3 separate regions of the Homo sapiens genome follow, and regions 1 and 2 are each linked to region 3. The links come from fine-mapping of genetic effects on gene expression. A gene starts in region 3. Each other region holds a variant in brackets. All regions are shown on one strand. Distances are between the middles of the regions. Region 1 has its middle 25 kb from the start of MANEA-DT. Region 2 has its middle 47 kb from the start of MANEA-DT. Region 3 holds the start of MANEA (mannosidase endo-alpha).

What was found. PIP is the estimated chance that this variant, and not a neighbour inherited with it, causes the effect. A credible set is the group of variants that fine-mapping cannot tell apart.
Region 1: its variant is the best candidate, but not a certain one, in a credible set for the expression of MANEA in cerebellar hemisphere (GTEx, PIP 0.59).
Region 2: its variant is the best candidate, but not a certain one, in a credible set for the expression of MANEA in nasal epithelium (TOPMed, PIP 0.69).

The regions. Positions count from the first base shown.
Region 1 is chr6:95,550,733-95,553,499 of GRCh38, forward strand. No RefSeq gene overlaps it. Among named protein-coding and RNA genes, the nearest start is that of MANEA-DT, 25 kb to the right of the region's middle. The variant G/A (reference allele first, on the strand shown) is at 1,010.
Region 2 is chr6:95,528,700-95,531,466 of GRCh38, forward strand. No RefSeq gene overlaps it. Among named protein-coding and RNA genes, the nearest start is that of MANEA-DT, 47 kb to the right of the region's middle. The variant G/A (reference allele first, on the strand shown) is at 1,538.
Region 3 is chr6:95,576,276-95,579,042 of GRCh38, forward strand. It overlaps MANEA (mannosidase endo-alpha), which reads left to right and starts at 1,260. Exons shown (of 5, transcript NM_024641.4): 1 at 1,260-1,363. It overlaps MANEA-DT (MANEA divergent transcript), which reads right to left and starts at 1,176. Exons shown (of 3, transcript NR_104136.1): 1 at 818-1,176. RefSeq lists silencers at 1,000-1,079, 1,130-1,219, 1,500-1,559 and enhancers at 1,356-2,296, 1,760-1,859.

The sequences.
Region 1 (2,767 bases), 26 kb before region 3:
GATATTTCATCTTGTATTTTCTTTTTGTACCAGAGACCATATTTTAAAAATTGTACTAACGACACAAGCAGATGCTTTAAAAAATGTGCTTTAAATTTCTGATAATAAACCTTTTCCAAGGTATGTCCTTGCAGCTTAAATGCTGCTATATTTCTTTTATGTAGCATTTGCCAATATACTCACATATCTTTTATATCTGCTTATCCTGATGAGGAAAATATATATCCAAACAAGATATTTTTCCATAAACATTGTGGGTGAAATTATAGACCATCTGACTCTATTACAACCTCCCCTCACATGGATTTTGAGCCAGAGAGTTTATGGACCTGCAGAGTCTCTATCAAAATTTCTTATGTCCAGAAGACATTTATCTTTTTTGGCTGTCTGGTAGTCTTTTGAAAAGGATAATTCATAGTTCGATGATTGGAAATATTCTCTGGCTCTTCAGATACGCTGAGAGGGAAATGGGAGCAATCAGAATACAGGGCTTTGCAGCTCTTTCAACCACAGTACCTTCTACTGCTGCTGCCACATGCCTCAGCAGAGAGCACCAGTTGCCTTCCATGTCTGTCATTGGCAGGAATAAAACAATGATCATTTTATTTCTTAAATGAACAGAAAGAGCCACAGATGGGACAAACTGGATGATATGGTGGTCTTAAACGTTTTAGAAAACAGCTCCTTCCACAATATTAGAGGATTAAAAGGTTAGTGTTGTGGTTAGTACAGACATTGGGCATTGAGGCAAGAAACTGTCTGTGGCAGAACAATGCAGACTAATGATCTGTAGGTTTACTCTTTTAATATTCCTCAAGAGACATAATAAGTGTCAGTATCACCCATTAATTGAAGTTTTTTCTTTCAGTATTTTTCACTTGTAGGTGTCTGTCTATCCTCTGCTCCCTGTTCTCTAACAGCTGGGGTTTCCTAACCCCCATCCAGAGCCCTGTAGGTTCTAGGGCAAGATTTACCTAGATAGTTTTCTCTAGTCCAACCATCTGACACT[G/A]AGCTTTGTCATCTGTGCCACTGGTCTTGCTGTTGTTTTGAAATTTGTCTTGCCTTCATTCTCACATGAAGCTCTGAAGAACTGGGCCCCTGCCTTTCCCTCTGTGGATTCAATTCCCTCTCTTGGTTAGTTTCCCAATACTTTAGGTCCTCTGGGTTTACCCACGCTTGCGACAAAGAGAGGGATTGTAGTCTTGCCTTGACATTCAAAGCCTGTTGCCTGGTCTGAGGGGGACTTTCAGATGCCACCTGTCTGTCTGTCTTCTTGCCTGCCTCTCTGCCTCCCATCCAGGATTGCTAAATGCATCCCTAACAGCACGCTTTGTCTCTGACACCACAGCTTCCAAAACTAACATCTATTGTGATTCCTTTTCAACACTGTACTCTATGTCCTGAAATGCACTTTTCCTAACTCCTGGCAGCAAGTTCTATTTCACCACTATGGTTAGGCTCATCTCTAGGTCAAGGTTCCTCTAGGGTTATTCAAACCCGTTGTTCAGCCATACATGGTCATATTAAAAATAAGAAAACTCCAGATAGGTCAGTATTCTTATCTCTGGGTTATACTAGGTCCTTCTCGTTCCAGCCACCATACAACCAACTGATCACTGATTTAGGTGGTTTCTCATGCAAAATTTTTTTTTTTTTTTTTGAGACAGTCTCACTCTGTCGCCCAGGCTGGAGGGCAGTGGCACAATCTCAGCTCACGGCAACCTCTGCCTCCCGGGTTCAAGCAATTCTTCTGCCTCAGTCTCCTGCGTGGCTGGGATTACAGGCGCCCGCCGCCACACCCAGCTAATTTTTGTATTTTTGTAGAGATGGGGTTTCACCATGTTGCCCAGGCTGGTCTTGAACTCCTGACCTCAGGTGAGCCCTCTCAAAGTGCTAGGATTACAGGCGTGAGCCACCATGCCTGGCCACAAAATGTATTTTATAGTTGACCAATTTTCATGAACTTCACTAGAAGACCCTACATCAAGTCACTGTTATCCTTTACCTAGGATAAAAATGCTTCCAATGTTCTCCCTGTTTATTCCTGCTCCTGCCTCATTCCTTCTCCATAGGGCAGTCAAAAAATCCAGTCACTCCTCTGTTTAAAGCCCTTAAGGGACTTCCCACTTCTTTCACTTATTATTTAAAAAAAAAATTTGTTTAGACAGGTTCTCACTCTGTTGCCCAGGCTGGAGTGCAGTGATGCAAACACAGCTAACGGCTGCCTCGATCTCTTTGGCTTAAGCAATCCTCCTGCCTCAGCCTCCCAATTAGCTGGGACCACAGCCACCACCATGCCTGGCTAATTTTTACAAAAATTTTTGTAAAGACGGGAACTTGTTATGTTGCCCAGGCTGATCTTGAACTCCTAAGCTCAAGAGATCCTCCTGCCTGGGCCTCCCAAACTGCTGGAATCACAGGCATGAGCCACCATGCCTGGCCTCACATATTCTTTAAGCTTATGCTGTCACTCATCTTCATCTTCAGCTTCTTTCCCAGCTACTTTCTCTCTTATGCTCTATCCACACTGGACTGCTTTCAAGATTTTTATTTACATTCTCTTCTGTCTGGATTGCTTTCAATTCTTGTGGGCAAATGTTAACAAATTTATCCTTTATCCTCCTCAAATGGCATACCCTCTAAGAGGTTCCTTACTGATTTCCTTATTAGATTACTCTATTAGCACCCTGCAGATTAGATTCTCTGAGAGCACCCTATACTTTTTGTTGGCAGCATTAACTTTTTGAATAATGTATTTGTTTGAATA
Region 2 (2,767 bases), 48 kb before region 3:
CCAGAGAATAGTGATCTAAGAAGAGAAAGCTTAGGGAACATGGTGTATTATTGGCTAATTGTGACCCCTCAAAATTCATATGTTGAAATCCTAACTCCTAGTCTCTCAGAATGTGACTGTTTTTGGCAACAGGATGTTTAAAAGTAACTAAGGTAAAATAAGGTCATTAGAGTGGGCCATAATACAATATGACTGGTGTCCTTATAGGAGGAGATTTGTACACAAAAAGGCACAGGAGAAAGACAGTAATTTACAAGCCAAGGGGAGGCTTCAGAAAAAAATAACCCTGCTGACATTTTGATCTCATACTTCTAGTCTGTAGACCTGTGGTAAGCTTATGTTGTTTAAGCTACTCTCTCTGCTGTAATTGTTTATGGTAGCCCTAGCAAACTAATGCAAGGTTGAGGAAGTAGTCAAGAGTTAGATGAAGTGGGGCCTTGGGTTAGTATTTGGCTTTAATTTTGAGATAGATGGGAAATTATTGGATAGTATTCAGGAGGAAATGAGATTATTGAATTTCTTTTCAAAGACGTCCCAACAGGTGGGTAGGACATTTCATGGAAGAGAGTATACTCTAATAACAGCCTTCACACCACAACTAATGTGAGCATGGCCTCCATCTCAAAGGCACATCATCAGTCTCTGGACTTAGCTTTGACATTTGTGAGAGCCCAAAATAGTAGTAACCTTGGAAATGATTGAGAGAGGAATGAAGGAGAGAGAAGTATTTTTATATGCAAAAAGGCATAAAAATAAAAAAAATCCCAATTTTGAAATTATACACATACCTTGTCACATTGTGATTTTAGGATAATTAACAGAATCTGGGTAGTTTTATTAAAAGAGAGGCTTGAGAATATTGATATTAAAGAATTTTACTGAAAGTAATATTTTATTTGGAGTTTAATGTGAACTTAATTTATATTTTATAAAGTAAATTAATTGTTATACTATTAAAATACTATAATAATGTATCTTACTCTGAAAAAAGAATTCAACATTGATTAAAATCAAGTGTATTCTCACAAATAGAGTTTTTCAAAATGTGATAACAAGTCTTCAAAAAATCTTTTCTTTCTTTATTACATTTTTATTTGAACCTAAAAAGTCTCTTCACTAAAATACAAAAATTGGGGTCTATGTTAGAATATTTTAGTTTTGTTTATATTGAATTCAGCACATTAGAACTCTAGTAACTTCAAATAATTTACATCAGTATAAAGGAATGGTCATAGATACACAATGGATGGATTTACATATGCATTTCAATCTGGTATCAATTCATTCAAATCAGCAACGCATAAGAATAGCCAAAAAGAAAATGCTGCTGTGACTAAATGTAAGGTTCTTAAAATGGTAGTAGAAAAAATATGTACAATAATACTTAAACAGTATTTTATTTAAACCTATCAAATACCATTTTCAAGAAAATAGAAATAAATACACTTGTTTACAAGCATGTTTACTAGGCACAAAGAAATGCAAAATATAATTCAGTGTTATTTAATATGAGTTTTCATCAACAGGCACATTTCTC[G/A]AATAACTTCCTGGAAATGGCATTACTGTGTTAAAGCAAAAAAGTTGCAGGGGACAAGATCAGCAGACCAAAGTTGATTTTATTCCGATATTATTGACAGCAATAAGTGAGAGAGCACAGAGCAATTCTGGATACCCAGATCCAGCTCCATACCAAGATAAAGGGCTAGAGGGTTTTTTAGCACTGGAGTGACCTAGCAAAAAAGTTCTGGAAGACATTAATGGGGTAGTTGATCAATGAAATGTGTTGAGTACATTGAGTTATTCTTGAGTTTACAAATGGTTTTCTCTGGGCTTAGGCTATCTGTGTTTGCTAATTGGTGTCCACTTCTTCCCTCCCACAGATACTGAGAGATAGAAGCACTCTCTTCCTTAATGATTACATTTCAAAGGGCTGGTTACCAGGCCCTCTGGAAAAGCACTCCTAGGTTGTAAAATTGCAAGAGGCTGAGAGCGATTTACATACATTTAAAATTGGCAGAGAAAAAATACATACTTGCAAATTTTCTTGTCAATGCTCTAACAAAAGAGAAGATGGAGGCCTATAGTCAGTATGAAACCTGTCTAAAGTTTAGTCAAGCTGAGAGGAACATTAAGCCAGTTTAGGTCAACTGCAAGGTAGGTCACATTAAGCATTTTAGTTAAATTTATTTTTTAAAAAATTTTAGGATTAATGATTGTAGTTTTAGGTTTTAGTATGTCATTTTCTTAAAAGTAGGTATATCACATAATTTTACACCCTCCTCAATTCTTATATACAGCAACATGCAGAAGGAAATATTTTTAGTTAGGGAGAGTATGGGCTTCAGAAATTACCCTGACCCAAATCTGCCGCATAATAACTGTGTGACCTTCAGTACATGGTAACCTTCTTCTGTCTTGTAAAATGAAAACAATGATAGCCATCTTACACAATCTTTGGCTAAATCTAACAACATATTATTGTAAAACATCTAATATACTGACTAGCACAAATAAGACAGCTGTCAAATACCATTTCCCTCCTCCTAATGCCCATAAGATTGTTGGAATAAAGCTTAGAGTTCAAAAAAATAACAATCTTCTGATAGGAGGAAAATATCTGTATTCTCTACCATCTTTTTTCCCTTCAAACACATATAATATAACTCATATGACTGAATGTTTAGAACAAGGTTCTTGAAGTTGCCAGTTTGGGAATTCCATGACTTAGTGCACCAGTGGCTTCTGTGACCTTAATAGAACCTCTGGG
Region 3 (2,767 bases):
TAAATATTATCTACAAAATAATTTTCAAAAGCAAGCAATTTAATAAAAAATGAGATAAAATTAAGAACAGGCTTTAGCAAAAGGGAAAATGCAAATTAAAAGAGCAATCAGATGCTCTTATCAGCAAAAACTTAAAAAGTCTAACAATAGCATAAGGGTAACGATGTGCCAGTCTAGTTTATGGGAAATGGACTTGTATACAGACGAATCTCAAAACCTCTCAAAACCTAAATTAGTGAAAAAAGGGGAAAAATGAAGAATGATTCACATATGAAATATAAAACTAGGAAAATAGTATTTTTAGGGAATCGTACATATGTAACTATTTTCAGAAATACAACGGAATGAGTAATATAAAATTCAGCATAATGGTGAACGGAAGGAAGGAGATGTTTTTAGAGAGTCTTCTTTCTAGAAGACTCCAAAAATACTGGCATTTTTTTTTTCTTAAGCTCTGTAGTGGGTACCTGGGCATTTTTCATTCTTCTTTAAGATATGCACATGAGATATACTCATATGTATATTTCCCAATTAAAATTGGTGTACAAAATCTTTTTAAGGAGAGCCCTTATGAAACTGTTCACATCAGCAAGTTCTAGCTTGAATAAGGACTTCCTGTTACTATGTAACCAAACAAAAGATAGCATTTTCTTGTTTTCTGAAGCTAATGTAAGATGGAAACCTTCAGTTGTAATCCTATTTCAAAAGTTCTTGCTCTTCACATCTGACTTATCCTCAATTATTTCTAGTACTTCAGTACAGATGTGATTTTATAGAATACATTCGCAAATTAAAAACGCCATCTCCATCTGCCTACCTTGGGCTTCCAAGTAAAGTTCTATTTTTACAAAAATCAAAACAGTTCCTCAACTTTAAAAGTTTGAAAACCAGTGTACTTGTAAAGCACTTGATGCAAGCAACTTCTGAATGTTTCACATAAAAACAAACAAAAATGTGTCCTCTGTAATACAGTTAGAGCCTCCCAACAGAGCCTCAGAAGACCGTTTCTAAAGGCAGTGAGTTCTACTTGCAGAAATAGGGCGGGAGTGCAGTCTGACTCCAATCCACACGTCCTTCCCCTCTGACAGAACGCCCCAAAACGCAGTCCTCTCTTTCTTCCGCGCCGCTCCCGCCCTAGTCCTCTTAGACCCGCGACCGGAGGCTCCGGAAGACCCCGAGCCCCGCCCGCTCCGTGACCCCGCCCCCACCCGTCCCGCCCCTGAAAGCGCCCGGAACGCTGTGCGCGCGCCTTCGGGGAGGAGGGGCTGTCTGGGCTCGGGGCGCGGCGGCAGTCAGCTCTATGTTCGCGGTCTTAACCTCTCCTCTGGCCGAGTCCTTGCAAGAAGTGAATTACCCGACCCTGGTGAGTAGCTGCAGGAGTCAGACCTCTTGGAGGCGGCGGCGCCAGCAGCGGCGGCAGGCACGAGGTCCACCGCGGGCGCCTGCGCGCTCGCCCGCCAGCCAATCTGGTGGCCGCTTTCCTCCGGGCGCCCTTTGACCCGGCGCCCCTCTGGCAGGCGCTGGTGGCGCCCAGCGGCGAGCCTGTAGCCCCCTCGATTAACCTAGGCTGTCACTCTTAGGCCTGTTTTAGTCTGCGTTAGTTTTACTGCCTTTTACACTGCTTTATCCCCACCTCACTGGCCTCGTCGCCGCCTCCTCTTTGAAACGGTACCTCCTGTCGCCTCGGATTTTCCTTGTCTCCCCGACAAGGTGGAAATTTCGGGTCGGATGGAAGCCTTTTTCAGCACCTTCTCCTTGTGCCCCCAGACTGCCTCTGGGCCTTGAGCCGACCGGGAGAGTAGAAGGATCGAGGCCTGCTGGGCTCTGGGTGCAACGGAAAGGTAGCTGTCGCCTCTGGGCATCGGGAGGAGACCGCCCGATGGCGAGGCCGCTAGAGATGGTTTTTCAGTTCACCTGTTAACGTGTTTGGCACTGTCATCTTAGACTCTTAGCCTTTGCTAAGTCGGGATGCAACAGTGCTGGATTAGTGTTTTTGTTGTTCCTTTTTCCAAAGAAGCAACTTGAAGTACAGGCAGGTATAACTGTTTGGTTTTGTTGTTGTAAGACCCTACGGATAAGTGTTAGGAGAAAATGTGGAAGTGCTATAAAACAACAACAAGGGGGGGATAATGTTGATTAAGAACTTGAAAATAAGAAAAATGGGACTGGAATAGGCTGTTCACGTTAAAGTATTGAGGCAGTAGTTTGAAACAAAAATATAAAGTAAAACCTAGATATTGGTGATACTGTATCACGTTGTTTGCAAATCACTTTCATGACAATACATCTATTTCAGGTGTATCACACCTGAAAAAAACATGAGTGCTGTGAATTTGTGGATTTTCAGGCTCAATGCAGAAAAACACCCCCCAAAACAAAAAATCACAACAATGAAAACACCATTTCCAGAGCTGTTGCTGTTATTCGTGTGACGAATAGTGAATGTATGATCATAAAATAGAATAAGCTGTCTTTAGATGAAGTTTGGGCACAGTTTATGGAGTAGGTAACAGTTAATCATTGTTTATTAGGTACATAATCCTTAATTGAAAACATAACCATATAGCAGCAGCTTTCATCTTGTGTCACAAAAATAACTGGTGTATCCTCTAAATTTGATTTGTCTAATACCTTAAAGGAAGGCAGAATAGCATGGACAAGAACTTGAGTTCTTGAGCCAGACTCGATCTGCTCCTTGCTAGGTGATTAACCTTAGATTGGTTTCTTGGCCATTTGCTGGCCCAGAGATTTTTGAAAAAGTTACCAA